Linked DNA regions of Homo sapiens: region 1 is linked to region 2. The links come from fine-mapping of genetic effects on gene expression. A gene starts in region 2. The other region holds a variant in brackets. All regions are shown on one strand. Distances are from middle to middle. Region 1 overlaps BTBD7 (BTB domain containing 7). Region 2 holds the start of BTBD7 (BTB domain containing 7).

The links. PIP is the estimated chance that this variant, and not a neighbour inherited with it, causes the effect. A credible set is the group of variants that fine-mapping cannot tell apart.
Region 1: its variant is the best candidate, but not a certain one, in a credible set for the expression of BTBD7 in fibroblasts (GTEx, PIP 0.53).

What each region holds. Positions count from the first base shown.
Region 1 is chr14:93,236,484-93,238,983 of GRCh38, reverse strand. BTBD7 (BTB domain containing 7) reads left to right here. Exons shown (of 11, transcript NM_001002860.4): 11 at 1-1,434. Among named protein-coding and RNA genes, the nearest start is that of UBR7, 30 kb to the right of the region's middle. The variant C/T (reference allele first, on the strand shown) is at 1,476.
Region 2 is chr14:93,331,574-93,334,073 of GRCh38, reverse strand. It overlaps BTBD7 (BTB domain containing 7), which reads left to right and starts at 1,038. Exons shown (of 11, transcript NM_001002860.4): 1 at 1,038-1,254. It also overlaps a transcript of UNC79 not described here.

The DNA of each region.
Region 1 (2,500 bases), 95 kb after region 2:
TCAGTGAATTCTTGACATTTAAATCTTCTTATAGAATTCTTTATGAAGCCTTAACTAATTCTTGTTTTTGCTTCCTCAGAAACTTTTTATTGCATCTGCCATCCTTCATTGGATTTTTGTTTTGGTTTGTTGTTGCCATTCTAGCAATGAGCTTAGTCCTTGTACATCTGCATTAAGGTGCCGATGCAGAAGGCAAATTGGAAACACGCGCCAGCGGCAGTGGGGCTCAAAGCCGACCTCCATGCATCATTCTCTAGAGTTGAAAGGATTGACATTTCTCAGTAACTACCCGGCAAAATATATATTTTCATAATGTTGAATTTGCCTTTTAGGAAAACAATGTTTCATGAAACACTTGTAAGATACTTATTTTGAAATTAATTATAAGGCATTCATATTTTTAGGACTGAATTCAAAGGGAAATGCTTCTTTGACTTTTTTTCATTGTTCGGTTGACTTTCAGCTTTCTGGAGTGACAAAGCAGCAGTGATGGGTGCTATTCCTGGTTCTGTGGTGGTTTACTTTGTCTACTAAGTGATTTACTTTCAAACCTCATTACAGATAATCTTACTAAAAGACTTAACATGCACACTGCTAAAAGGTGTTTTACTGTTTTCCATTAACGCTGTTGTATGAACAATATTTGGTGACATGTTGTCTTTTTGTCCTGTAGATTGTCATATCTGTTATGTAGTTATCCTTTTGGCAAGTCCTTTGATTTTTTTTTCCTCTAGAAAATCCTCAGACTGTCAATCTTCCATATTTTGAATATTATAATGCTGTGGCCATTTCTATAGAAAGATTACTTGCAAGTGTGTGTCTTGAAAATAACCTCTTGTATTTGTGTGTTTATGTGAGTTCTGTCTAAGAGATCAGATAAGCTCTGGAAGCTTCATCATCTGTACCTACATGTAACTGTATCTGGGTTACATGGGCAGGCGGTACCAAGTCCTGCTCTTCGATGGGGTGGCTGAGAGATAAAGGTTCCTGAACTCTCCTTGCTGTGTATGCACCACATCTGTACTTCAGAGAGGTGGAAAATCATCTACAACACTGCGTTTCTTGTGGTTGTGCTGTTACTGGTATAAAGTCAAGTGCCTTCAATGCTAAAGGCTCAGAAATTTTTCTTAAACTGATTTCATGTCCTATGCAAGTGTTTTCTACAACCTGCATAACCAGTACTTTGTAAAACTTGTTTACGCTTCAATTGTACATAGTGATTTTTAAAGAAATATATAGTATTTTTATTTAGGTACCTCCAAACTTGAATTCGTCTGTGTGAAGCATTGTAAAACGATACATTTCTCTTTTGAGTACCATTACAGTTGTACAGAGGTTTTCACTGCTTCTATTTTTCTACTGTTACTGATAAGCATGTAACACTGACTTTATCCTACATATAGTTGGCATTTCAAATAAATGGCTTGTATAGAATCTGCTGAGTTGGATACAGTCTGTTTTAGCAGTGGAGCATA[C/T]AGTCTTCAATTATAGAAGTCATTGCACCCCTGGAGGGTAGAATTGGGAGGTTTTCTAGGTTGATTTTCTCTGTTTCTAGGATTTCAATCATTCAGAGGCATTTTATCATCATCATCATCATCGTTTTCTCGGAAATCACACATTTTATTCTGAATCATCAAGTTCATTATTTTCTATTATTTCATTGAGACATTTCTGAGAAATTTTATTTTACAAATTTGAGCGGAAAGTTCCTCTCACAGGGGTCTTCAGGATTGCAGGAAGCTCAGCATGGCACCCACGTGAACCAGGCACCTGGATGTGTCCTGCTCTTCAGGGCCCTTCGAGGGTCAGAGACCTGGCCTAGATTCTGAGCTTTGCCTTTGCTTTCACACCCAGGCTCAGTAATATTTTCAATTTCAAAAGGAAATGAGATCATGGTCTAGAGTCTAGGATTCTGGAAAAAAAAAAAAAAAACGCAAAATGGAAAGTTTTCTAATTTCCATTTTTTAAAATTGCTACAAAAGAGCTCTTATTTTGTTTTTTATTTTTCAGACAATGTCTTGCTCTGTCACCCAGGCTGGAGTGCAGTGGTGTGATCACAGCTCACTACAGCCTCAATTTCCAGGCTCAAATGATCCTCCCACCTCAGCCTCCCGAGTAGCTGGGGCTACAGTCAGTGTTACACCACTATGCCTGGCTCATTTTTAAAATTTTTTGTAGAGACAGAGGAGGGGGTCTCACTACGTTACCTAGGATGGTCTCAAACTCCTGGGCTCAAGTGATGCTCCCACCTCAGCCTCCCTAAATGTTAGGATTATAGGCATGAGCCACTGCAACCAGCGAGCTCTTTAAAATGTTTTTTATCATTTCAGTGCCAAATTCTGTCCTAGCATCTCACTCTTCATGCCTTACTAACAAGTTATTGCTTTATAGTTTGTAACCATCTTAGGTTTAACAGAAGGGTATAAAGATAAAATAAAATCTAAGGTTTCTGTGGGTGAGCTTCTTAAATCTAAACAAGAAAATTGAATAAATCAACATT
Region 2 (2,500 bases):
CAACAACAAAAAACTGTGTGACACAAAACTTGTTAAACAATGGGTAGAGATTGAAAATGCAAATACAATACTTTCAAATAAATTCCCAGAGTTGCTAATGTCTATCAGAGGAAAAGGAGGTGTAACGGTGCCTCCTCACTGGGTTCAGAATGCCTGGGTTCTGATCTTGGCTTGCCTACTTGTTAGTATTTCTGAGCCTGTCTCCTTGGTTGTAAAACAGCAATAAAAACACCTATCCTGACTACCACAAAGGGTGGCTTTGGCGTTCAAATGAAACCATGGATCTCTCTGGAAAACGACAGTGCCCCATAAATACAGTATTTTTGTTATTGCATCGCTGAAATTATTGCAAACCCCCAAACAAGGGGCATCTAGGGAAGAGCGACTTGGCTCTCCCACGTGGCGACTGTGTGTTTTCATCAATTTTGTCCTTTGTTTACAGGGGTATCTTGTTAAGGAAAACTTTTCAGTGTCTTAAAGATTATTTTTTAACCTACTACACAAGTAGCAAGGTGGTGCCTGTAAAAGTACCATGCAGACAAGTGCTTACGATAGACAAGTGCTCACTGCCAAGAAGCAGCCACCGGAATGCCAGGACTGTCAGCAATGACTTTCCGCGGAAGAGTTGTTCTCGAGAAAGATGCACTCATTGCATGCGACCACCCGAGGGACGCCGGCCGCCGAACGGAAACATGAATTCGTGGAAATGGCCATCTGGTGACGTAGTAGTGACACAGTTCTTATATTCTGATACATTTAATAATGTGTCACAATTCGCTGGACTAAGCAGGATGCTGCCACAAGAGGCAAACTCCCAGCGACCCGACGCCCGGCTCCCAGCCGACGAGCAAAAATAATGCGCGCGCACTCCGCTCCCATGGATCCAGCGAACGCACCGCCCCCCCACGCGGCCCGACTCGCGCGGCGACGTCGGGCCACGTGACCCTGAGCGGGACGACGGCAGGGGAGGGCGGGGGCTCCGGCCGGCTCCGCAGCGCCGCGCAGGCGCCCCAGGGCCACGCCGAACCGAGCCCCTCCTGCTCCGTCTAGGAGTCAAAATGGCGGCGAGGGGAACCTGGAGCAGTCCCGGAGCCTGAGCCACTGACAGGAGAGGAGAGGGCGGCGGCGGCGGCGGTGGGAGGAGGATGGCCGGGGGTGCTGGCGCCGGTGCGGACGGCGGTGCTGGTGGCGGCGGCGGCGGAGGCGACGGCAGCGGTCCCAGCGGCAGCAGCAGCGGCGGGAGGAGCCTCCGGGGTGAGTGTCCCTTGGTGTCTCTGAGGCTGTGGAGCCGAGGCTGTGTCCGGTGTGGCGCGGGGCGTCCGGGAGAGGAAGGGGCTGTTCTTAGGCGTGGGGGCGCCGGGGCTGGGGCCAAGCCGCCGCGGGAGGCGCTGGGGCGCCGGGCGGGGAGGGGCCAGTCGTCCGTCTGGGGCTGAGGCGCGGCGGCGCCGGACTGGCCGGTCTCTGTGCGCTCCGAGGGGCGGGCTGGAGCGCGCCGCCGTCCCTGGGGCAGGGGCGCGAGGTGTGGCGCTCGGGGCGGGGAGAGCGGCCCGAGGGAGTCGCGACGGCAGCCCGGCCGGCTTTGGGCTCCGGGCGCCGAGGGGCGGGACCCGTCGCTCCCAGGACGCTGAGAAACCGCTCCCGAGACGGGGGCGCGTGTTTACCCGGGTGCGGGGTTGCGACCGCCAGGGGTGGGCGTGAGAGTGGCCGGCGGGGTCTGGGAAGGGAGCAGGCCTGAGGACTGCTACTCCCAGGGGAAGTTAGATTGTCCGGGTAAGTTACTATTGCGGGATAAACCTGGAATTGAGCTTTGACAGGTTGGGAGGGAGACAATACCGAGTGTTTGATAAAGAAGAGGAGGCTGTGCTTGTTGGACTACTTGAATGGCAAAAAGTGTGCATATTTCAGTACCTTATTTGCACAGTGTTTGCTAGCTTTACCCCGAGGGTGAGAACTTTCTCACCGTTTTTCAAGAAACTCTGAGGAGTGTTGTTTCTCCTGTGAACTACAATTGCACGTCTTCACATACCAGCACAGATAATAAGTACTCTGGAGTAGGCCTAATTTACAGAAGCAGTCTTGGTTATCTACACCAGAGCACTGTTAACTCTGCGAAAACATCTTACTGTAATGAGAAAGTAGACATTTTTACAGAATTACTTAGCTTTTTCAACTAACAACCTTTTTGGGGGGGGGGAGACGGAGTCTCGCTCTGTCACCCAGGCTGGAGAACAGTGGTGCGATCTCGACTCACTGCAACCTCCGCCTCTCAGGTTCAAGCGATTCTCCTGTCTCAGCCTCCCAAGTAGCTGGGATTACAGGCGCCCGCTGCCACGCCCGGCTAGTTTTTGTATTTTTAATAGAGACGTGGTTTCACCATGTTGGCCAGACTGGTCTCGAGCTCCTGACCTCTGGTGATCCGCCCGCCTCGTCCTTCCGAACTACTGGGATTGCAGGCGTGAGCCACCGCGCCCGGTCTGGTCAACTAACAATCTTTTGTCCC